Regions from separate parts of the Homo sapiens genome. Here region 2 is linked to region 1. The links come from fine-mapping of genetic effects on gene expression. A gene starts in region 1. The other region holds a variant in brackets. All regions are shown on one strand. Distances are from middle to middle.

Region 1 (8,320 bases):
GTTTTATCCTTCAACCTCACCCCACTTCACAGACAGGAACCCAGGTGCAGGGAGGGGAGGGACCTGCTCAAGGTCAAACAGCTCCAGGTACCAGACCTGAAATTCAAATCCAGACCTGCCCAATTCTAATGCTTCTGCAAGCTCATTTCTGAAAAAGACGACTTTGAAATCAGACCGCCATGCCACTGCACCCTCTCTCCCGGGGCCCATTCACTGCAAAACACTGGCTACCCTTCAACATCAGCATACAAATGCTGACCTCCACACTTCTGTTTCTGCAGGGCCCTCTTCCCGGAATGCCTTCTTACCCCCCTCCCCCAGCCTAGACCCTAAGCACCCTTCAAGTCAAGAGCTCCAGCGATACCTCCTTTGTGGGAGCTTCCAAGCTATGTCTGTCCCGAGTCCCTGTCTTCCTCACCTACTCAGGTAAACACACAGCACTCAGGCGATCACCTCTCCATCAGAGCCCTCCCTCTGCTAGAGGTTACAGCTGGAAGCAACATGGTGTGGGGCGTCGGTTACCCTTACTAGTGGCCACATGACCTCACTGTGTCTGTTTCCCCATATGTAAAATGGGGATAGCACCTCCCACATAGGGGTGCTATGGGGATTACGTGTGTGGCAGAAGAGAAAGCAAACTATTGGGCATTAAAAAAAAACTAAGCCGGCCAGGCGCGGTGGCTCACGCCTGTAATCCCAGCACTTTGGGAGGCCGAGGCGGGCAGATCACAAGGTCAGGAGATCAAGACCATCCTGGCTAACACAGTGAAACCCCGTCTCTATTAAAAATACAAAAAAATTAGCCAGGCGTGGTGGCGGGCGCCGATAGTCCCAACTACTGGGGAGGCTGAGGCAGGAGAATGGTGTGAACCCAGGAGATGGAGCTTGCAGTGAGCCGAGATCGCGCCACTGCACTCCAGCCTGGGTGACAAAGCGAGACTCCGTCTCAAAAAAAAGAAAAAAGAAAAAGGAAAAGAAAAACCCTAAGCCATTACTCCCAGGTGCTAAACAAAGGCATGTTCAGTTGGAAAACACTTCATAAAAGGAATTTCAGGAAAACAGATTCTAGCTGGCCTATGTACCATGTATGTCACACTGCAGTTAAAAAAAAACTGTTTAAAGTAAAATCTCTGGTTAGTAAGAATGGATGAATACAGGAGGATTAATTTTCAGGTTCCCTGGGGGTTGGCCAAGTCTGGTTTGGATCAAAGGGCTTGTTATTTCAAAACAAGCACAACAATTCCTGGTCATGGTTGGTCACAGGGACAATGAAGATCAGAAAAGATCTCCCGGTGGAAGGACCTGCTGTCTGGTCCTTCCCTCTCTGAGTCTTCCTGCATGTTACAGCCACTGTGAGCCCTGAGGGCAGGGCTGCAGCTTATCCACTCGGAAGACCGGCTGCCTTGCCAGGAATACGTTAAGCACTTAATGCATGTGGGCAGAAGCCTGAGGCAGCCTGGCCTAGGGCAGGAGCACCATCCAGGCAATAATGCTGTGGGACCTTAGCAAGTCCCTCCCCCAGACCCCAGCATCCAGGCATCTCCAGCTGCATCCACTCTGCACCCTCAGATCCCCACCTGCACGGTGGGGCACTCAGCCCCAACTCCCTACTGGTGACCACAGCAATGGCTTAGAAGCCGTCACTGTGTAAGATCCACAAAACCAAAGTTGCTAGCATTCTTTCCTCATGAGCAATGAGGCATATTTTTATCCCGTCCAAACACAAACACCGGCACCAAGGAGTTCAGCTGAGAGGCCGCCACCTGGAGAGGGCTGCAGGCACCATGCATCCACTCAGACCCGCAGCAGAATGACCACACGTGGCCTTCTGCCCTAAGGGCTCTGGCCCTCACCCAGGCCACCCCCATTCTGTTCTCTCTGGGGGGGCAACCCCATCTCCCAAGCCAGTGCCTCAGAAACAGCCCCTGTGGGAAGCCAAGATGATGTTCACTCTCTCTGATCAGTGCCTCTGCCTCCAGGATGCCAGTCCAGGGGAGTCACTGGAGATGCCCTCGGGGCTCACACACAATGTCCATCATATGGCACTTTCAGCACTGTCCAGAAAGGGGCTGGCTATAAAGCCTACACCCCTCCATATGGTGCAACGCTGTACAGCTGGTAAACGTGACCTCGTACATGAACGTTTTGAGACAAGGAAAAGGTGGGCCTAACACTGTTAAGGCAGGATTTAAAGCAGCAGAAGATATTAGCCGGAGTCTGTTTAGGATGAAAACAAAATTTATCTGCCAAAAAACGGAAGAAAACGCCCCCTAAAAAAGATACTTGTTGTCTCTGGGGATAAAGCTTATGCGCGGTTTCATTTTATTCTTCTTTTAAACATATTTCCCTAGTTTTCTATAATGAATGTGTGATGTTTTTGAAATTAAAGCAAATGTTATTTTAAAACCCATCTGTGAGCAAGCTCTAAGGGAGCAGGCCCAGGAGGTCCTGGCCCTGGGATGTCTGCTCTGGCCTGGCCTGACCCAGCCCCCTGGCACAGGGCTGCTCCTCAAGACAAGGGCACAAAGCCCTTGATGGATCCCAGGTACCTATTTTTGCTCAGAGTATTAAGGGACAAACCAAGGAACATTCCAGCTCTATCCAATGTGGCACATTCACAGGAACAGAGGGGTTTGAATTGGGACTGCCCCAAGCAGCATTCATGACGGCCATAGTGGCCAAGCCCCCACCACACACCTGGCACCTGCTCCAGGCCTGGCCTGGATGGGCAGCAGGTGTGGACTGAGGGTAGGTCCATCTTGTGCCAAGCACTGTGCTGGGCCCCCCTGCCCTAGAGAAGTCTTGTCCAGGGCCAGCATTGGAGCAGCTTCATCTAGATGGGAAGGGTTAACACCTAAACAGACACCCACAAAGACGGCACAGAAGGGGGCCCTCACTCCACTGTGGGAAGAGGCAGGCCAGAAATCCTGCAGGAGGACTTGACTGAGCCTTCTGGACAAGCAGGCAGGAGCCAGGCAAGCTGGGAGGTGGCTGGGCATTCCAGCAGGGGTTGTGCCCAGAAGAGGAGGCAGCAGAGGGACAGTGAGCCAGGCTTGTGGCCAGGAACACGCAGGTGGCTGGGAGGTGACTGCTGGAGAGAGGACACAGGAGGGAGAGGCTGAGTGAGCAGCGAGGCGGGTCCCTGAGGGCCCGAAAGAATGCCGGCTCCTGGCTCGGGAGGCGGACCTGACCCGATAGCCCAGAGGGAAGTGGCAGCTGAAGAACCAGCAGGGCTGCGTGCAGCCAGGCCCGGATCGGGACCAGGGAGGAGCCTGGGGGTCGTCCAGGGAGAGGCGAGGGTCCTGAACCAGGGCAGGCATCCGAGTGAGGCTCAGGAGCCAGGAGAGACCCAACTGGGAGTGAGGAATGAAGGGCACAGGGGGTGGTCTGGTTTGTGGCTGGGGCTGGCTGGCTGTGGTGGTACCACTTCCGGAAGTAGGGAAGTGGGAGGGGAGGGGAGCCGTGTAGGCATAAAGCTCCCGACCTATTATGATTCTTATTGCCACCGTCAAGGATGGGTGTTTCGGGTCTGTCTGGCAGTGCAGACATCTCTGGGGGTTGAGACTGAGCTGAGGTCCCCTCTGTGACCAGCCCCAGAAGCCTGTCCAGCACTGGTCCGGGATGGGCAGGGGAGGCCTAAGTCAGAGACGCCCTCCATGCTCTTCCATCCTGGGAAAGAAGGTGAGATGGGGTCTCCCAGCCAACTTTTCCTGTGTCTGCGAAGGGAGGACAAACCAGCAGGTAGGGAAAAGAGGCTGAAATGTGGAGAAGCCTCCCTCCAAATCCCTGGTTGGATACAACGGAGACCCCATGGGAATCACAGACCCTTGGACACAGAAGTAAACAGGTGGCGACAGTGACAAAGGTGGCCTCTGGGCTTCCCGTGGGCTCCCTCTCCTGCTGCAGAGAACAGGCAGCCAGCACATGGGGTACCCAGGGCACAGCTCCTTGAGTGATGGATGCTGGCATAAGAGAAAGCCCTTTACAAACTGCAAAGCCCTGGGCCAAATGCCAGGGGTCACTGTCCAAGGTGAGGAGAGACGGGGCTGCTTCTGGAGAGATAGGGCAGAGGCCTCACACCAGGCTCTGCCCCATCAGCTTCGTGGTCCTGGGCTGGCACCAAACCCTGCTGAGCCTCAGCTTCCTGGGGTGTCAAACGGGGACTATAACTTCTCCGCCTAAGGCTACTGAGAGGGTTAAATCTGGGTGGTGGGGGGTTGCACAAATGCGACTTCCTTGGAATTCATAACATCATCTGCTAAGTGGGTGAGAGGCCAGGGCGCCATCACATCCAAAAGGGCTGGGTAGGATTCTCCAGAAAGTTTTCGTTGATCAAACAAAAAGCTAATGATCCAGAGGGTGGAGTTCATACGAGGCAGGGTCCAGGTGCTGCCACTGAAACCCCTCAACTCTCTACTGAGGGGCCCCGAGAGAGAGAGGAACTGCCACAGCGCTCCTAAGTGGGCTGTGGGGATTCAGAATGACCCCTAAGCTGCCCCTCGGGCGGGCCGGGTCCCCCTGGGGGACTGAACCCCCCTTCCCCCCCACAACACCTCCCGGGGGCCCAGGCGCGTTCCAACGGCCGGGCGGGCACCGAGGGCGGCCGTGGGTCCCGGGACCGCGGGGGAGGGGCATGACGGGGCAACTCGGGGGGGATGGCGCGGGGCGCGGGGAGGGGGCCTGCCCGCCGGCCGCTCCGCCTCTCGGGCCTGCTGTCCCGCCCGCGGCGGGGCTCCAGGCGACAGCGCGCGGGGGACCGGGGCGCGCCCCCCGGGTGACCCGTTCGGGCCCGGAACAGGGGTCGCCTTGCGCGTTGCAGAGCGGGCGGGACCCCCGGCCCTCCAACTTCGGGGACCTTGTCGGGACTTTGGGGCCAGCCACCCATCAGCTCGGAAGGGGAAACTGAGGCCCGAAGAGGACAGTGCCTCAGGGCTCTTGCCCGCCTCCTGCGCGCTGCCCACAGCCACCGCGCCACTGCCCCAGCGCCGAAGTACTCACCGGCCCGTGAGTGGGCCGCACGCGGCGCTGCGACGCCCTGGGGCCTCTGGGCCGGCAGAAAAGTTGTTCGGGAGCAGCTGAACGCGGCGCAAACGGGAGATCTGCGGCCGCGGGGGAGCAATCTGCACTCGCTGCTGAAGAGCCGGCTAGCGCGGCCTTCTGCACGAGGGGGCGGGGCAGGGGCGGGGCCTTCGGCCTCCCTCCACTCCAGACGCGGCCCCCCGGATGCGGCGCCAGCTCGGCCTGCTGAGTGGCCGGTGTAGCCGCCAATCACTCCACATCTCCGCCAATCACGGTGCGCCTCGCCTAGCTGCGGCCCGGCACTCCCCCTGCGTGGTTGGGCCCGAGGGGCCAGAAGGCGGGTCCGGCTCGCCCACAGCGAAAGTTTCCGAGCGGACTCGGGCCCCGGCCCCGCCCCCGCCCCGCCCGCGGAACGTCCAGTTGCTTAGCGAGGCCGCTCGCCTTCTCCTGTAACAGGTGGTTTGGACCCGTGGAAAAGGCTCCGGCCACCTTTCATCCACCACTCCGGCCTCAGCGTCCCCAACTGCAGATTCATTATATTTGCTGTTGCAATATTAACACACGTCTTGAGCGCCTATTCCGGCGCTGCAAGAGAGTCTAAGGGCTCCCCTAATAACAGCAGCAGAGATGGAAAAATGGGGCCTGTTTGAAACGAGTGTCTGCAGCCAAGTACTGCTTTCAGTGCCCAGAATCAAATGCAGTGTAGCAAGCTTTTCACACGGTGACTGTGGGATTCCTTTAAAGTGTGTGTTAGCCCAGGGAGTGGGCAAGGCTCAGGCAGTTTGGAGACTCTGGGAGTTTGGTTCCTGTCTGGGAGGCGTGGTTTGGAGATGAGGGCGAGGGTCTATCCTTGAGAGGCCCTGGGGAACGTGAGACCCTGCCTGCTCTGTCTCTGGTCCCCACAACCAACCTGAGCTACCTGTCCTAGTTATCACAGCAGAAACTGGGGCTCGGAGTGACTGTCAGAGATAATGCTTACCAACATGTTGGGAGCAAATATTCCAGATGGCTTTGGAGATGAGTTCTGAACACACTACTTCGGAGGACTTTTGTCAAAGCGGCGTAGTTCATGTCAGTCACCTCATTTGATTCTCCAGCTGCCCCCACTGCCCACCCCCGATCCCCAATGTTCACGTGTGACCCTGTGAGGCTCACAGAGGAAGGAAGAACACCTGCCGTCAGCCTCGCCTGCTCTGTCCAGGTTGGCTTAGGGGCTTTCACAGCTTTCAAGGGCCCCCCTAGTGACCCAAGGAGGGAGGTGGCACTGAGCCCATTTTTTATTGATGTGAAAATTGAGGCTCAGACATAGTTATTTGCCCAAAGTCTTGAAGATGTCTTTCCACCTTATCACACACTAACTGTAGAAAATTTGGAGAATTACTAAAAGTAGAAAGGAGAAAAAAAATCACTCAAAGATGATCACTGTTCACATTGTGAGATTTATGCACATTTAAGAAAATAATAAATATTAATGTGAACACACAATCACAGAGAGGCTGAAGCACTTCCCAAACCCTTTGCAGGGGCTCATTAAGCAGAGAGAAGAGGACAGATTGAAAAGTTCCTCCTGTGGAGGTCTAAGGGAAGAGAGGAAGTGCAACAAAAAATCTACAAGATGGCTTAAGGAGCCTCTATCAGAACACAGCAACACTGAACATACTCCACGGAGCTAAGAGACTGAAAAAGCAACAGGCAAATTCAGAAAGAGAAGAGTGGAGGTGAGGACAAATGAGCAAACTGGAAGATAATGTGGAGTAAATGCTTCATGATGTAGAGGAAAAGCACATGAAAATCATCAGGACAAAAAGCAGAGACTGGAAAGACAGTTCCAGGAGGTGTATTGCACAAAGGACAGGTACTCCAGGAAGAGCTGGAGGGGAAACAGAGGTGAGCAAAGTGCCAGGAGAACGTGTCCCTGGAAATCCCAGATGCCAAGGATAAAGAGACGGTCTTGCAGAGTTCCAGAAAGAACAGGTCACATCTAAGGGGAGAAAAGTTGAAGTGGTTCCTAGGGGACTTTGGAGCAATGTCCAGGGACTCTGATGATAGGATCAAGGATCCTTACCATGGCTACTACAGGATTCATCTATGTGGACAAAAGAGAGAAAATATCCACTGTGGCAAGACAGAGAAAGGACCTCAGTGATGTCCCCTTTCAGAGGAAGATATTCAGAGTTCCCCCGTCACCGAGACAGTTCAATCACAGTAGAGATTTCAAGATAGAGCAAACGCTCAGAACAGGAAGTGGTGTTAAGCAATGACCCTTGCAAAATATACAGTATGGATAATCCACATGTGCCTGTGATTTTGTACTAGCAGTGCCACATAAGGATTCTTAAAACATAAGCTACATGCTTCAAGAGAAAGTTGTATTAGCCTGGAACTAAAAAAAAAAATAGAATCTTATCACAGAGAAGTCAGAATATTTTAAGATCACATTTGGTTGAGGGGAGAAGGAGGAAGTAAAAGGATCTGATTTGGTGAGTGGGGAAGGAAAGCCTTATTGGTGGTTGGGAGGGGTGCTTCATTACCATTTACTTTTAATACATTAGCAGGGAAAGATTGGTTTAATTATGACTCTCAGCTGGGGAAGGAAAGCCTTATTGGTGGTGGGGAGGGGGCTTCATTACCATTTACTTTTAATACATTATCAGGGAAAGATTGGTTGAATTATGACTCTCAGGAATTGGAAAGTAGCAACTCACGGGAAAGAAGCAGAGTAGAACTCCTGAATTACTAGGTAGAAGTTGGGGGAGGGGTGGAGGGAGAGTAAGGAAGCAAAATTAAGGGGGAAAGTAAATAATAGCAAGAACAATAAGCTTAATAATAGTAAACATAAGATGAGATAAAATAAATAAAGCCATGGCTACCCGCCTTCGTAACACGGTGAATGGGCTGAATTTCCCATCCAAAGTCTGTAAGATTGGGGCAAAAACTAAAGTCCAGTTAAGCGCTATTTACAAGAAACACACCAAAAATATTGAGAAGTAGAAGATCACAGCAGACATTTGAAAAATGGCAAATTACTATTGATAAGGAAGAACGCATGATGGAAAGCATTCACGGGAAGAGTGGTATTATGTAAGGGTGCCAGGCACAATCCACAAAGATTTCATTGTCATGAATCTGAATGAGCCAGAAAATCTAGTAGCCACACACTTAAAGCAGTAACTGCTAGAAATACTAGAACTTATTAAAACACAACTCTGGTGGGAGAAAGAGCCAGCTGTTCAATGCTATCTTTTCTAGGACACCTGTCCTCATTCCCCCAAGAGCTGAGCTCTGCATGTTGCTGCTGAGT
Region 2 (8,320 bases), 21 kb before region 1:
CCTGCCGCCAAAGCTGCTCATGTCCTCCAGGTGTGCCCAATGGCACCCTGCACAAGTGTCACCCACCACGCTCCCACACTGGCCTCGCTCCCTGAGCCCTTGCAGATCCAGGGGCAGTAGGCGCCTCTGCACGTCCTCCCTGGCCTGACGGACACGGCACTTTGTTTTCGGGGAAGGCATCTTCAAGGCACTGGCCTCCACTCTGGACCATACATGGAGAAATCTGCTAAGTGATGAAGTCTAGATGAAAGTCTGCGTCCAGCCCGCCCCACTGCCCCCTACACTGCACAGAAAGACCCAGGGGCCCCTTGCTTGCCATCCTAGCACTCCTGCCCAACACCGCCCCTGGTTTCTGAGCCTGACGGCGCAGAAAAGAAAGGCCTCTCTCCCGAGGACACATCCTTATGACGATAGATGATGACCCAAAGGTACCAGCGGCACGGCTGTAAGACACTCTTTGTTAGGCGCGAACCTCCCCACCTGCAGCTTCCTGGAAGGTGCCCTGCCTGAGGTGCGCGAGTCCTTGGGAGGCAGGCTCCGGCCTGACCGGGGTCTTGGTCACTCACCTTCAGACGCAGTGGCAGGTCCTCAGGGCTCTTCCCCGCCAGCTCGTCATCATCTTCGTCGTCCTGCAGGAACAGGCTGCTGGGGATGACGCCCTTGGCGTACTTCTTAGTGATCTCCACAAAGTCATCCAGCGCGATGTAGTTCTTGGCTGAAGCATGAGAGAAAACAGCATGGGCGCCCCACACTGCAGCCCCACTGCCACCCTCACACAGAGCAATGGGCTGGGGACGGTGGCGTGGGGCCAAGCTAAGAAAGGAGCTGAGTGGGTTCAGGTGGAGGAAACCCTTCCCTGGGCGGCCTGAGGGTTGAGGACCAGGCTGGGTGAGGAGGAAGGGGGCAGGTTTGCCAAGTGCCAGCCTCCACTCCTGGCCCCCGGCCCCTGGGTGTGCTGTCCCCCACCCCAAGTGTCCCTCTCTGCCTAGCTCCTTATGCCTGGGGCCACTCACCCACACCTTTCACCCAGTTCACCTGCCAAGCCTTACAACATGCACCTCCAGTGCATGCTGACACCCTCCTCTTCAGCCAGCGTGGGGCTTCTCACAGCACGGGTGACAAGCCGCCCTGTAGGGCAGTACCCTGCCAACCGCTCCATCGAACATGATCTGCGCCCCCAACCCCTCCATTCAACGTGATCCACCCAGGGCCTACTGTGCACCTGCTAAACCGCTCCATCCAACATGATCTGCCACACACCTACTATGTGCCTGCTGACACCTCCATCCAACAAGTGTCTGCCATGGGCCTACTACATGCCTGCTAACCCGTCCATTCAACATGCGTCCTGCCATGGGCCGACTTACCCCTCCATCCAACATCTTCCACCAAGAGCCTGCTACGTGCCCACTGATCCCTCCATCCAACGTGATCCGCGAGAGCTACGTGCCCACTGACCCCTCTATCCAACATGATCCCCTAGGAGGGAATGAGGCCCCTGAAGGACCCCAGTTGCCGTGGTGAGATGGTGACCAGGAGGGCCTCCAGGGGAAGGATGGGAAAGAAAGGACCATGCTGGGGCAGGGCAGAGGGAGACAAGCCAGGGTGCTGCAGAAACCCTAGGGAGGAGGCAGGCTGCATCCAAGATGGCAGCCGTGATAGTGGGCGCTGACAGACCTCCTAATGGATCAGCTGTGTGTGCAAGAGGAGAGGAGTCGGGGCAGCACCCAGGTGTAGCTGCAGCAAAGAGATGAGGCAGCCTTGGGGGGGCCCACACAAGTGGCAGGTAGCACAGGCCTCAGTAGCTCACTGTAGACTGAGCTGTGAGGTGACCATGGGACAGCCAGGTACAGGAGATGTGGAAGGAGCACGGGCTGGATGCAGCCTGGGCGGGCTGGGGGCTTGCGGGTTCAGGACGGCGTCTGACACACGAGAGTGGTCACCAATGCCACCCACACATCTCCCTACCAGAGCACAGTCCCTACGGGAAGACCCTGGTCCCCACAAGGAAGGCCCCTGTCCTCATAGGGATGAATACCTTGGGCAGGATGTCCTGTCCTGAGAGACAGGACATCAGTCTAGGGACCCCAAGAAGGAGCAGCCAGTGTGGCAGCAAGGGCCCCGGGCCTGGTGGGGGAGAGGGCTCTAAGGAGAAGAGCAGTCATCTCTGCCCACGCTGCTGACAGATCAAGTCAGACAAGGACAAGAAGTGACTGAGCAAGGGGGGTCACTGATGGCCTAGACGAGCCGCTTTGGTGGAATAACATGGCAGAGGCCTGAGAGCAAAGGACGGAGGACGAGAGAAGGGGATGACAGACGCCCCTTTCTGGGAGTTCTGTTGGAAAAGCTGGCAGAGAAACAGATGATGCCTGATGGGAACGTTCTGATAGAGGGGAAACAATGGGGGTGCTGGGGCCCTGTCCCTGAGGGCCTGGCGGAGGGGACCACAGGCTGGCAGCGCTGACTCCTAACTCGCCCCCAGCAACAGCGACAGGGCCCAGCAGCAGGTGTGCCCGGCTCATCACAAACCCCTGTGGGACTGGGAAGTGAGGTTGGGGTCCAGACTCTGCCTGCAGTGCCCCCCAGGATGGAGACCCAGGCTGGGCTGCTCCTGCCCAGAGGCACCTCACTTCAGGACAGCAGGCACCATGCCACCTCGGTGGCAGGACACTGTCACAGCCTCTCTGGTCCTCGGGCTTCCTAGAGTCACAGATTTCTTCCCACTTCCATGTGAGGTGTTTCTTTGTCTCCCCCAAATGGAGCAGGAAAACAGCAGCGCAAGCACCCATGTCCGCCCACGCAGAGGCGAGGGCTCTGACCACACCCTATGGACGGTTTCCTCACGGGCCCAGTGGGAAGGTGGGATCTGTGCTCCCACCTGTACTCTGCCCTACATGCCACAGAGGCTTCTAGGATGGGCGAGGTCCTTCAGTCCCCTTGTCTGATCATCTCACTGTTCAGAAGGGGAAACTGACACCCAGAAAGAAAAATGAGACCTGCCCATGTCACAAGAAGAGTCTGTGGCAGACCTGGGTCTTGGCCCATCCCCCCATTGATACTGAGCCCCCAAGCCTCCTGCCTGTCTATCTTCTCCAGGACAGGAGCTCCCAGTGCCTCAGACTGCAGAGTCTACCCCACGTGGATGGAAGACAGTGAGGCTGGCCAGCTGCACGTGGAGGATGTGACGTCTCTTCTCAGTCTTTGACCACAAACATCCCAGAGGCACCCCCAGCTCAGTGTGCCCCAGAGACTCTATCCCCCAACCTAGGCTCTGCCCACTCTGTTCCCTGCCTACCTACAAAGGGCCTACGCTGGGGCAGAGCCCCTTCCACACCCTGCTGGG[T/GT]CTCCTGGGCCTTTGCTCATGCTGTTCCCTCTGCCCGGAGCCCCTTCCCCTAATGCCCTCCTCATCCTTCCCCACTCAGGACCCCCCCGCCAGTCCCCACCCCCAGTATTTCCTTGTCCAAGAGGGACTGGCACATCATGGTTTCTGTCCTGGGTCTGCCTTCCCTCCAGTGCGTGCGCTCCAGGTGGGCAGGGTCTACTCCCAGCGTCCAGAACACTGAGCCCCAAACGGACCGCCTGAGATCCTAGCAGGGCCAGGATGGGGTCGCACAGGAAGGAGAGGTCGCCCTGCAGGCGCAGGCTGGGAGGCACGGGTGAGATAGGGCAGGCCAGGATGGAGTCGCACAGGAAGGAGAGGTCGCCCTGCAGGTGCAGGCTGGGAGGCATGGGTGAGACGGGGCAGGGGCTGCACTCACACTCGCTGCTGACCAGGCGCTCCAGCATGCGCCTCTGCTTCTGCAGGGACTTGGGCACGGGGCCTGGCTGCGCCCCTCCATCTGCAGGGGACAGGGTGGATTAACAGTCAGACAAGTTGACTATCTCCTCGTGCCCTGCAGCCCACCAGAAACTGGCGCACTGTTCCTAGGGCACGCCAGTTCCAGGGGCATCCTACGTTCTGGGGATCATAGGGCCCCCAGGGCAGGCAGAGCAGGGGCCACACCTCTGTACCTCCAGTAGCTGGGGTGGACTCAGCACCACGTAGCGTGCTCCCACTTGGTGATGGACACAGTCCGTCCCATTGGTAGACGTGGTCACAGAGCACTGGGCAGAATACCCTCTGGTTTATTCAATGAGTGAGCACTTGAGCCAGGGCAGATGCTGTCAAAATGCCACCCACACACCTCACCACTAGGGCACGGTCTCTACAGGAAGGTTCTGGTCCCCTGGTCCCCACAAGGAAGGGCCCTGTCCTCACAGGGAAGGTCCCGGCTCCTGTGGGAAGACCCAGCCCCTGAGGGAAGGTCCCAGCCCCTATGGGAAGGTCCTGGCTCCTGTGGGAAGGCTGGCGCCCAGGGAAGGCTGGTGCCCAGGGTGAATCCTCGCACCGTGCTCGTTGACCTGGCCGACATTCTCCAGCAGCTCCGCCACGGCCACCTGCTTCTTCTTCTTGGGGTTGAGCTTCCAGTACATGACCAGGGCTGCCTTGCGCACGGCCCTCTCCAGGTCGGTCTCGGAGGAGAGCTGCCTCACCTCCCGTTCGTTCTCGGACGTGATGCCTGAGGGATAGGATGTGGTCAAAGGCCTTGTGTGCCCTGCCTAGGCTTTCGGTGCCACTCTGACCCTGCCAACTCTGCCTGGAAGGCTTTCGAGCGAGACTCATAGAAGGTGTCAGGACTTGGTTACCAGGGAAGGATGCATGGACATCTGACTCAAGAGGACATCGCGCCACGCCCACTCTCCAGCTGGGAGGCCAGACTGGTCTCCCACCAGACGCCCCCAAGTGCCCCCTACATGCTGGCGGGAAGAAGGCAGCCTCTTCCTGTTCCTCCCCTCTCTCAGAGGTGCAGACCCGGAGGCACAGGCCTGTGTTCTGGCTCACTCAAGGTCACACAGTCAGAAAGAGGCAGAGCTGTCTTGAACCCAGGGTGGACTCACTGCAGTCACCAGCCTGGGTGCACTGGCAGGGCCACCCCTGTGTCTACAGAGCTTTCCTCTGTCTCACACACAGCCCAGCCCTTTCTAAGGAAGGCTTGGACAGCGGGGAGAGGGAGAGCAGGTTTTACCGCTGGTCAGCAGCTGCCTTCCTCCCTTTACCCCCAACGGCCTGGGACACTGGCACAACCAAGCAGAGGGCAGGAGGACTGGCACGGGGGTCTGGATGTTTTTCTCCTTTTGAACATTTCCAAAATTTTCCACATGAGCATGTATTTCTTTTCAAATCAGAAAGCACAACTGCACATCAGAAGGTGTGTGCAGCTGGGGGAACACGGGGCCAACCGGCCTCCTCCCTTGCACGCTCTGCCCCAGCAGCCTCTGGGCTATCCCTGGCACCCAACAATGAGCCGTGTGGGCCGCCTGAGCCCCCTCCAGGTCATTCCAACTGCTCTGGAATCAGCAGGCTGGGTTGGTGAGAAATTCTGGCTAACAATGCCACTGTTAGTTTTTCAAAATCATCAGTTTAATTTTCAAAGAGAAGACTCTGTATAATAAATGTAACTCTTAAAATATGATACAAGCTGGGCATGGTGGCTCACGCCTGTACTCTCATCACTTTGGGAGGCCAAGGAGGGTGGATCCCCTGAGGTCAGGAGTTTGTGACCAGCCTGGCCAACCTGATGAAACCCTGTCTCTGCTAAAAATACAAAAATTAGCTAGGTGTGGTAATGCACGCCTGTAATCTCAGCTACTCAAAAGGCTGAGGCAGGAGAATTGCTTGAACCAGGGAGGTGGAGGTTACAGTGACTTGAGATCGCACCCCTGCACTCTAGCCTGGGCGACAGAGTGAGACTCCATCTCAAAACAACAACAACAAACACAGAAGGAAATACACCAAAATATGGGGAGTTGCTTCTGGGCTTCAAGGTTATGAGTAATTTGTATCTTTATGTTTTCTACATAGTCCAAGTTTTCTATGATAAGCATAAAATACTCTTACAATCTGAAAAAAAAGGTATCATTAGAAAAAACACCTTTGTGACACCCACTTTCATCTTTCCCTGAGGCGTGGAACCTTCAGGAAGCACACTGCCCCACGGCACCAGGGACAGCCACTTCCCTTGCGCAGGACAACGTCCTAACTCACCACCCCTGGCCTGAGCTGCGTCCCTTTCCTCCCCTGCCTCTCTGTTTGAAAGAGATTATCTATGAAGGGTCAGCCTGCCTCCTCCCAAAGTGAACATGCTTGTCCAGGTCTGTGTGGGCCCACAGCCCCTCAGCTGGTCTGCCCAGACTCGACGGACATCAGCTCAGGGGCATGGGCCACTCTGACTGCAGGCCACATTACAGTCTCCAGCTTTGCCTCAGGGAAACTGCCTCTCAGCTGAACCCAGGATCGATGTCTCAGTTTGGATCAGAACCCAGCAGGGAAGCAGGATGTATAGTTACCACTTGGAGATACCAACACAAGCCAAAGAGAATGAAAATGGCTTGGTCTGTTAAATATCCCATGTTAAGTCCAGAAACAGTGTCTAAAATGAGAAGGCCACCAGCAAAACAGAAACTGAAATTTCCCAACAGCATCACCAGCGTTAGGTTTGGTAAGATTTTAGTTGTTCAGTTAGCAAGCAGCATTACAAGCTGCTCAACCCTCCAGAGGCTGTTCTAAGCCTCACACAGACCCACCTCTTCTGTCCGCCAAGCACCGGCGAAGCAGCTTCACAGCCTCGCGACGGCCCTGCTTCGCGGCGAGGACCAGCCAGTCCACAGCGGTGCAGCTGTTGAGTTCTTCATCCGTGTCGCCGGCCAACTGCAGGTAGTGCTTCCCCACCTGCAAGCCAGACACCAGTCAGCCTCCAGATTCTCCGACCCTCTCCCACCCCATGCTCCCTGCCAGCCCACCTCCTTTCACCCACTTCCCTTTGTCACCCAGGCCAGGAAGGAAGGGGCAGAAATGGGGTCACACCAGGCATGTCCACTAGGCTAGGCCCTACTGAGCCTCCGGCCACTCGCTCCTCAAAACACGGTGAGGAAGGTGTGGCCACCCCATCCACACGGCGAGGGAGACACGGGCTCCGACTGGTACTGGTACAGGTTCTCTTCCTTGAGTTGCTCCTGCCTGCCAAGGCTCACCATCAATGCATGGAAATCAGAACCATGACTGGGTCCTTTACACCTCTCAAAACAGTCAGGGGACCATAGAAAGCCAGGGCTGGAGAGACGCCAGCTAACCAAGGGTTAGCACTGGCCCACTGCCTGTTTTTGCAAATAAAGTTTTATTGAAATACAACCATAACCATTCATTTACATGTTGTCCATGCTGCTTTTACGTGCTCCACAGCAAAGCTGAGCAACACGGCAGAGATTGCGCAGAGTCCAGAATATTCACTATCTGGCCCTTTGCAAAAAGAATCCCTGCTGAAATGGTCCAGTCTTCTCATTCTACAGATGGAAAAAGTGAGGCCCAGGGCACAGAGAGCCCATAAAAGGGCTTACTATGCTCCCCCCGCCTCCAAATGCCTGGGCAAAAGGATGTGGGAGGAACTTTAAAGTACAATATGGCTGTGAGGTCAGGAAAGAAATTTTTTTTTTTTTTTTTTTGAGACAGAGTCTTGCTCTGTTGCTCAGTTGGGAGCGTGGTGGTGCGATCTCGGCTCACTGCAACCTCCACTTCCTGGGTTCAAGTGATTTTCCTGTCTCAGCCTCCCAAGTAGCTGGGATTACAGGCATGCACCACCATGTCTGGCTAATTTTTCTATTTGTAGTGGAGACACGGTTTCATCATGTTGGCCAGGCTGGTCACGAACTCCTGACCTCAGGTGATCCACCCGCCTCAGCCTCCCAAAGTGCTGGGATTACAGGCGTGAGCCACCGCTCCCAGCCAGAAATTCTTAATTTATGGTTTCGCGTGGAAGCTTTTCTCCTCTTTAGGGAGAAGAGGGGGCAGGAAACTGCTCAGGATAACTGTGGTCACTTGCTTGAGCCCTGTGCAAGGGGACAGAGTGAGGTGGTGAGAACTTGCCTCCACAGAGGACACAGGACCCCCTGCCACCTCCCGTCTCAGCGTTCTGCTGGCTTCTCCCCTCACCAGAATTCAAAATCACTGTATTTCTGTGTCTTGTCTACTTGGGTTTTTTGGGTCTGCTTCTTCCACTAACCTGTCACCCATGAAGAGAGGGCCACATCATGTCCCCAGCACTGGCACAAAGCCCAGCCCTTGGCTGATGCCCAAGTGAATGGTCACCGCTCTGAGGGCCCCGTGCACACAGCTAACAGCCAGGTGAAAGGCCAGTCAGGGAGACAAGAGTGGGCAGCATACACAGTGTATGTTGAGGGGTGGCACTGAGCAGGCAGCTGCAGGAAGCCAGGAGGTCATCCTGGA

The links. PIP is the estimated chance that this variant, and not a neighbour inherited with it, causes the effect.
Region 2: its variant is fine-mapped to the expression of WFS1 in whole blood (TOPMed, PIP 0.93).

The regions. Positions count from the first base shown.
Region 1 is chr4:6,266,693-6,275,012 of GRCh38, reverse strand. It overlaps WFS1 (wolframin ER transmembrane glycoprotein), which reads right to left and starts at 5,163. Exons shown (of 8, transcript NM_006005.3): 1 at 4,999-5,163. RefSeq lists an enhancer at 1,606-2,155 and a silencer at 5,076-5,185.
Region 2 is chr4:6,287,436-6,295,755 of GRCh38, reverse strand. It overlaps WFS1 (wolframin ER transmembrane glycoprotein), which reads right to left. Exons shown (of 8, transcript NM_006005.3): 4 at 6,625-6,769; 5 at 4,389-4,559; 6 at 3,759-3,839; 7 at 567-715. Among named protein-coding and RNA genes, the nearest start is that of WFS1, 22 kb to the right of the region's middle. The variant T/GT (reference allele first, on the strand shown) is at 3,344.